Linked DNA regions of Homo sapiens. The gene in region 2 interacts genetically with the main gene of each other region. Each region holds a gene or a part of one and is shown on either strand. Other genes may lie near its edges.

The links.
Region 1: changes in TRIO (region 2) and ELOF1 together harm fitness more than expected from each alone (negative genetic interaction), as found in Homo sapiens cells (one large-scale study listed by BioGRID).

What each region holds. Positions count from the first base shown.
Region 1 is NC_000019.10:11,552,354-11,556,542, forward strand, and holds the end of ELOF1 (transcription elongation factor 1 homolog), read right to left. Parts: intron 3,223-4,189; exon of another isoform or gene 2,992-3,222; intron 2,901-2,991; exon of another isoform or gene 2,821-2,900; intron 2,013-2,820; 5' UTR 1,995-2,012; coding exon 1,879-1,994; intron 1,729-1,878; coding exon 1,658-1,728; intron 1,458-1,657; coding exon 1,393-1,457; 3' UTR 693-1,392; downstream 1-692. UniProt on the Homo sapiens protein: Factor involved in transcription-coupled nucleotide excision repair (TC-NER), a mechanism that rapidly removes RNA polymerase II-blocking lesions from the transcribed strand of active genes.
Region 2 is NC_000005.10:14,142,111-14,146,141, reverse strand, and holds the start of TRIO (triple functional domain protein), read right to left. Parts: upstream 2,801-4,031; 5' UTR 2,417-2,800; coding exon 2,260-2,416; exon of another isoform or gene 1,613-2,259; intron 1,337-1,612; exon of another isoform or gene 1,161-1,336; coding exon of another isoform or gene 1,121-1,160; intron 1-1,120. UniProt on the Homo sapiens protein: Guanine nucleotide exchange factor (GEF) for RHOA and RAC1 GTPases. Involved in coordinating actin remodeling, which is necessary for cell migration and growth. Plays a key role in the regulation of neurite outgrowth and lamellipodia formation.

The DNA.
Region 1 (4,189 bases), on a different chromosome or scaffold from region 2:
AGGGGACATCAGCCCTCAGGTGCTCCCCATCGGCCACACACATCCCGCCCCAACACCAGCCTTCTGAGAGTCCTCACCACCCTTGAATAAAGGCCCCTTTCATGTTTCCCTCCCGTGTCCCTCTTCCACTCACTACCTCCAGAACGGCCTGTAAGCTGTTCCCTCAGCCTGGACTCTGGGCTCACAAGAAGTCAGACTGTAAGCTGTGGAGCCTCGTTTCCTGGGTTCAAATCCCCCCTGTGCCACTTTCTGGCTGTAGGGTCTTGGGCCAGTGACCTCCTTCACCTCTAGCCTCTGTTTCCTCATCTTTGAACTTGGGGTTAGCTTGGCACCTGCCCCACAAAGTGGCTGTCAGGACACTGGGGCGACGCAGGAAGGCCAGAGGTCAGCGTCTGGCTAGAGGTGGCCCTACGGTGTCACTGTCTCAGCCTGCCCCTCCCAGAAGCCTCCTCTGACCACCTGTTCTGTCTCACCTCCCCCATTTCCTATTGTGACTGCTGTAAACACCTGGCCAGATGTCTGCCTGCTCCACCACCCTGAATGCTTACTGACTGAATAAAACGCTGGGTGGTTTGAAGGGCTGGTCACATGGGCCACCAGGCCACCTCCCGAACGTCAGAGCCTCAGGTCCCCTCTCCTTCTTCTGGTGACCAGGCAGACGCAGAACCCAAGACATCACGGACAGCAAGGGATGTGCGCTGGCTGCTTTATTTAAGGGCTTGTGATTGACAGCTGTCCCCATCCCAGCCCTTGCTTCCTCTACAAAAGCAACTGAACATGAAACGGGCTTCCTGGTTACCATGGGGAGGGGGGCGGCTCCCTGTCAGGGCCCAGCCCAGGGACCTGGGGAACGGCGGCTTTGAATCCCCGGCCACGGGCACTAGAAGGTGGAGAAGGAGAGCGGGAAGTCCAGTTGAGATGGGCACGGTGCTGGTGAGGAGGCTGGAGAGGTCCTGTTCCAGCCTCTAGTGGGCTTCCCTTGTCCAGGATGTCAGGAAACAGTCCCCCAATTCCGCCGGGGGGAGCCAGAGCCCCAAGGCTGGGGGGCCAGGGGCTGCAGGGAACACAGCAAAGGCTTTCGGAGCCAAGTGAGATCAGTTCAGGCCCCTCAGGCCCAGGAACCCGACACCACCGCGTACCTGTGAGCACACACTCACGGCCACCCCAGTGACACGTGCAGCCACACACACCCACACTCACTCACACCCACACCCACACGCACACCCACTACACACACACACACACACACACACACACACACACACACACACACACACACGGCTGTGACAGCCCAGGACCCACACCCTGGACCCCTGGAATGTCTCTGGACCAGAACCGAACAGCTGGATCCACAGTACGCGGGGCTGCTCAGGGGGCGGGTCCTCTGTGTCGCTACTGATTGGCCGCCTCGCAGGCGTCTATCCAATCACTGTACACATCCACGGGTTCTGACAGATCTGGGCCACTTAGGTCAAGGGCGATCATTGGCATTGGAACCCTGCCCTGCATCTTCTCACCCCACAGAAATCACTAGGTGGCACCTGTTCCTCTGGACGGCTTTGGCCCTGCACCAGGGCACACAGTGGGCCAGATGAGCAGGGTCCGGACTCCAGCCCCCTCCCCACCCTCTGGAAAAAGCCCAGGTTTCCAAGGATACACGTTATGGGCGTCTGGAATTCCTCTAGGCACACGGTACAAGAGATGACTCCGGTGTTGCGGGCACGGTCCCTGAAACAGACCAAGAGAAGGGACTGGTGAGCAATGCGTCCTGGGCCTGTGGGTGATGACGCCTTCACCAAGGGAGGCAAGGGGCAGGATGGAGAACAGCGGGGAAGAGGCAGTGGGGAGGCTGGATCCCTTGCCCTGTTCCCCACTCACATTTTCACATCACAGGATTTCTCGTGGTTGCAGAAGGGGCAGGTGAACTGGGTCTCGAGGGTGCCTGTCATCTTCTTCTTGGGAGGCGGCTTTCGTTTTGACTTTCTGCGCCCCATGTCTGCAGGTGGATGAGCCTGTGGGGAGTGGCAGATGTCAGTGGTTTGAGGAAACCACGCAGCGCCCCAGCTCAATGCTCTAGAAAGCAGGCCGGAAAGAGGGTCTGGGACTTGCACCGTGGTCCCGGGGCCTCTGCCCTTGAGGGACGAGGCCCTCAGTCCTGATGCAGGAGGACAATTCCCTGTCCCACTCTGGATGGAAGGGGTGAGACGAGGCTCTAACCCCATCTCTCTCACTTACTGCGTGACCTGGGCAGGTTATTTAAGCTCTTTGTGCCACAGTTTCCTCGTCTATAAAACAGAGACAAGGCCAGGCATGGTGGCTCACACCTGTGATCCCAGCCAGCACTTTGGGAAGCTAAGGTGAGAGGATTACTTGATGCCAGGACCTGGATACCAGCCTGGGCAACATAGTGAGGCCTCATCTCTAAAAAAAAAAAATTAAAAATTAGCCAGGCATGGTGGTGCAGGCCTGTAGTCCCAGCTACTTGGGAGGCTGAGATGGGAGGATCGCTTGAGCCCAGGAGTTTCAGGTTTCAGTGATGATCCAGAGTTATGATCCAGGCACTGCACTCCAGCCTAGGCAACAGGATGAAACCCTGCATAAAAAAAAAAAAAGAAAAAAAAAAGGCCAGGTGTGGTGGCTCACACTTGTAATCCCAGGACTTTGGGAGGCTGAGGCGGGCGGATCACGAGGTCAGGAGTTCGAGACCAGCCTGACCAACACGGTGAAACCCCATCTCTACTAAAAATACAAAAATTAGCTGGCCATAGTGGCAGGCACCCGTAACCCCAGCTACTCAGGAGGCTGAGGCAGGAGACTCACCTGAACCCAAGAGGCGGAGACTGCAGTGAGCCGAGATCGCACCATTGCACTCCAGCCTGGGCAACAGAGCAAGACTCCGTCTCAAAAAAAAAAAAAAAAAAAAAGTCGAAATAAGGTTGCTATCTCAGAGGAGACTTGTGGGGCTGACACCAGGAATGGTAAGTTAAGTACTTAGCACAGAGCTGGCCCATCATCGCTGGCGCCAATACAAGGAAGCCACTGTTCCTGGGGAGGGTGGCACAAGAGACTCCAAGACAAGCCAGCTGTTCAGGGCCGGGTGGAGCCTAAGAGCCTAGGAACTGGTGATTTTATTCTGGCTGCTCCTCTTGGCAAAGGACATGTAAGTACCATCCAGGAGGAGTGACACTCAGGTTATCTGATGGCCTCGATCCAGATGACAGACTGCAGGGCAGAGAAGTGGGGACAGGCACTTCTGAGTAGAGGAACACTGTGTGAAGGCTCAGGGCAGCTGTCCGTCCCCTGGCAGGTGAGGGAGAGAGGAGGGACAGGTGGGAGGGTTCTGGGTGTTTGGATGGATCCTGGGAGCTACAAGGAGTGAAAGGACAAAGTCACCCTGTGCTTTTGAGGAACTGCGGTGTGAGCCATAATCTGGATGAAGACAAAGTCACAGCCAGGACAGGGCTGTTGGGGTAGAGATGGCAGAGGGTGAGAGAGACAGAGGAGACATGGCGGCAGAGTGAGTGAGTGTGACGAGAGAAGGAAAGTCCAGGATGACTCCCAAGGTTGTGGCGGGGACATAGTGGCTAGAGGGACAAGGTGGCATCATTCTCTGATGTCTAACACATAGGAAGGACAGGGTTTTGGAGAAAATGATGGGGTTGGGTGGCAGAGGGATATCTAGGAACAGATGTCCAGGAGGCAGGTGGGTGGGGAAACGGCAGCAGTTACCACTGAGCCCAACTCCCCTGCGAGGCACGGTGCTCAGGGCACTGTGTTTGCCATCCCTGAGCCTCCTATGGCGCCTCCTCCAACACACACACACACGACTGCTGGTTCTAGCATCGTTCCACTGTGACGGGGAGGTCAGCAGCCTGCCAGTGTCTTCCAGAATAAACAGTGGAGTTTCATTCATTATCTGCTGATCACTTCCTATGTAATACCCCCAACTCTTTCTTTTTTTTTTGAGATGGAGTCTTGCTCTGCCGCCCAGGCTGGAGTGCAGTGGCATGATCTCGACCCACTGCAACCTCCACCTCCCGGCTTCAAATGATTCTCCTGCCTCAGCCTCCCGAGTAGCTGGGAGTACAGGCATGCACTACCACGCGTGGCTAATTTTTTGTATTTTTAGTAGAGATGGGGTTTCACCGTGTTAGCCAGGATGGTCTCGATCTCCTGACCTCGTGATCCG
Region 2 (4,031 bases):
CATCGTTGGCCTAGATGCTAGAGCCAAGATCTAGGTCAGGGACTCAGAGCTGCCCAAAGGAGATTTCACTTTTAAAAAGACGTTCCAGGCTATCGCTGGAATGGGATGCTGCATCTGATACCTACTTAAGTTCTGCCCTGGCTCCTGATTCTAAGTGAAACAACTAAAAAGTTAAGTTTGTCATTTTGGAGGGCAGAAGAAAGGAACAAGCCAGTGAGACATTACCTGGTTCTGACCCAAACGGAACATGAACAGGAGCCCTGGCGGCGGGGGCAGCACAGGCCTAAGCAAAGCCAAGAGCAGACGACAACTCCTGGAGAGAGCCACGCCAACAGGCAGCAAATCTTCGGTGTCTTTTAGGGAGGGCTCTTAGCAGCAGCAGAAGTGATTTTTGTACTATGCATAATAGAGATGTAAAAAAGCCTGGTCTCACAAACACCAAAAAATCCATCTCCAACGCAGAAGAGCCTTTCTAACAGAGAGGAGCTGAATTCTGCACAGAATCTATTATTCTGTGACAGGTAGGTAGAGAGAAAGCTAGACTTAGCTTCAGGGCATGAAGGGAATACGTCCCAGTTCTGCTATTAAGAGGTAAGACGGGGCTGCTCTATCTGGCCAGTCGCACCAAAAAAAAAAAGGTGGGGGGGGGTAGCTTTCTTTAGAAGGAGCTCATGTTTTCCTAAACCTTTGCTTTCTGCAGGCACTTCTCAAGGAGAGTGAGCACTGGGGAGTAGATTAACCCCAAGCTAACACTGGACAGTCGGCTGTGTCACTCCCAGCCACAACCAATCTGCTAAAATGAATCAAAAATAACCCCGCCTAGCAAAGATCAAGACAACCAAGAGAAGACAGTACTAAACCAGGTATCTACCAGCACTGCTAACTTCTGCCTCTCACCATCGCCCTCCCGCTGCAATTGCTCCTCGTGACCCGGATTGGGGAACTGATCTCACCGAATCTGGGGAGGTGATTTTCAAAGAGGCCACGGAAAAGCGTGAACCGCCGACCTCCCGCGCGTCCCCCAGCGCAGGGCCGCTCCCCCGGCCTGTCGGTGTCCCCAGCCCGGCCGTCCTCCCCGAGGCCGCCACCAGCACCCCCGCCCGCCTCTCCAGGCCCGGACCTGGCCCGCCCTCCTCCGCTCTCCAACCCGGAGTCTGCATCCTCCCTGCCCCGTGCCCGGCCCGCTAAGGACTGCGCTCTGGGTGCCGGCCCCGAGGCCGCCGCCGCCGCCGCCGCCTCCTCCTCCTCCTGCTGCTGCTCAGCCGACGCGCGAGCAGACCGGACTGGGCGCGGGGACGCGGGACGCGGGGACGCGGGCCCGGCTCGCGCGGGATCTGGGCCGGAGCGGGAGGAGGCGCCGCCGCTGGGGTACCGGGGACGCCCTGTCACGCCCCCTGCGCAGCAAACCCGGTGCCCCTCCCGCGGACCGGTCGCCACCCGCGCCTCTCCCGCGGCCACCCCCTCTGCGCCGGGGTGGACTCGGGGCCACCTGGCACCGCCTCCACCTCCACGCCACCCACACAGTGCCCCGCGAGCCCCAGCCCCGCGCCGCCCCCCCGGGGCCACGTTCCCAGCTGACCCTCCCGGGTCGTCCCCGGAGACAATGGCTCACCGCGCCTCCCGGTCCTCCGAGCTTCAGCTCGGCCACCGTCCCCACTCCCTGGGCAGTGAGTGCCGTGACTGCCCCGTTTCACAGAAGTGTAGACCAAGGCCGGGGAGATGACAGGCTAGAGGGCCAAGCAAAGAAACCCGGCTGCTAATGGGGTCGAGGAGGGTCCAGGTACAAATCAGCCAGAGACAGGCACAGATCAAAGACCAATTTCCCGTCCCGGACCGGCCCCGGCTCAGTCCGCTCGGCCTCCGGGGTAAGAGCCTCCGCCCACGCCATCTCCGCCGCCGCCTCCTCGGTCCTCCAGCGAAAGAGACAAAGAGCCGGCGCCCCAACCCGCGAAGCCGCGGCTGCCGGGAGCGGCAGACCGGGGGATTCTGCCCTAAAACGAGGGGCGGGCGCAGGGAGGGCGAGGTGGTGGCATTCGGGCCAAGCTGCCGCGCGCCCGGCTGCGCGGGCAGCGGGACACGCGGATGTGGGGCGGGCAGCCCCGGCGCATGGAAGCAGTGGTCCCAGGCGAGAGCCTGCGGGCCCCGACGGACGGACGGGCGGGCACCAGCGCGCGGTGGCCGGAGCTCGGCAGCTCCGCGGCGGGTCGGCCGAGCGCTTGGGGCAGCGCCGCTGGGCGGGCCGGCCGCAGTTGCACTCACCGGATCGGAAGAAGGCCGCGATGTCGGCCAGGTCCTTGGCCGCCTCCTCTGCCCCCTCGCCGGCACCGCCCCCGCAGCCCGAGCCAGCCGCGCTGGCCGCCGCGGCGGGGCCGGAGGACGCGGCGGGGGCGGCGGCTCCGCCGCTGCTGCCGCTCATGGCTGCGGCGGCGCCCGCGGCCGCGCCCGCCTCGGGCCCCGCGCCCCTAGCGCCGCGTGCCGCCCGCTCCGCGCCGGGCCTGGCGGCGCCGAGCACCCAGCTGCCCGCGCCCGGCGCGCGGACGCAGAGCCCCGGGGCGGCGGGGGGCGGCGGCGGCGGCTCGGCCCAAGGAGCGCGCCCACATAGACGAGGACTCCGCCCGGTAGCCGCGAGCTGGCCGAGGGGCGGAGGCGCGGAGCCACGGCCTCCCGGGCGCCGGCCGGAGCGCGGGCAGCAGCACGCGCCTCCCGGACGCGCAGTCGCGAGGGCGGGGGCCCGTGGCCGGCGAGACCTCCGGGATCACGGGCGCCGGCGGCTGCCGCGAGCCTCCATCTTGATTTCAATGGGGAAGGAAGGAGGGGGGAGGGGGAAATCACGGCCGAGGGAACCCGGGTGAAAGGAAAAGGGAGAACAGGGAACGGAGAGGAAGGAAAAAAAAGAGGGGCTTCGGTAATTTCCGGCGAACTTCGTCAAGGGCCGAGCCTGGGCTCGGCGGTGGGCGGAGCCTGGGGGAGGGGCGGGGCCGCGTTGGGCGGATGGGCTCCCGCAGGGCTGGCGGGGAGGCTGCAGGAACGTTCGGTTTGGTTCGGTCTGCTTCCCCGGGGCAGCTCCAAGCCTTGGAAGGCGCAGGAAAGCTCTGACCAGCCGGGGCGGACCTTCCCAGGCCCGGCATTGCGCCCCCAACCGGGGCGCTGGCTCCTGCACCGGTGCGCGGTCCCCTGAGCGCCGAGGCGTTTCGTCGTCTAGCCCGCAAGGCGGGGTGACGCGGGCCGGGGCGGGTGCCTCCCTAGTGGGCTCAGCGCTGGCCCTGGCTCGGGGAGGGGGCTTCTTAATAGTTGTTGAGTGAACATAGAGGGCCCGAAAACAGGTTATCTGCTCCAGTCCCGGAGGCCACGGTACTCCTAAGGGTACAAAGCTCTCCTGTAAAATGGGATTCCTCTCGGTGTATCCCCATCTCCCAGGGGACTTTCGGCTGCTGAACCTCGGGTTCACGGTTTCTCAGTCCTTACTCCGCCAGAATGAATGGGGAAGATGACGGGGTCTGGGGAGGCCAAAAGAAATGTTCCTTTGCGGAAGATCCGTGTCAAACCAGCGCTGGACGAATATTCTAGTTCAAAACGCCTATGCCCCGGCTACGAGGAGAGTGAAAGGATCCAGTGCCGGGGGAAACAGGCAGAAGCAAGAGAGATGAAAAACAACTGGGTGATGAAACCACCACACGAGTATACTGGAAATAGACAAATGTAAATGGTGGATGGTGGCCATCAAATCTTCACTGCTGGAGTGGAGGTTACAGCCAGGAAGAGGCTAGAGTGATCCTTGTGGTACAGGGTTAGAGTTGGAGACATCGTTATGGACTCATGTTTGGGGTCTACATCTATATTATATATTCATAATGTATATAATGGGTCTGTACAGAGATTTGTAGATAAAGGGTCGTACACATACTTGTATCTCTTTGCTTTGTCAGCTGAGTGGGCCTAGACACAACACTCTGTAGCAACGAATACACCTAGCGCTCTGATCTTGCTTCTAGTACCATTCTCCAATAAAAGGAGCCAGAGCTCCTTGAGGA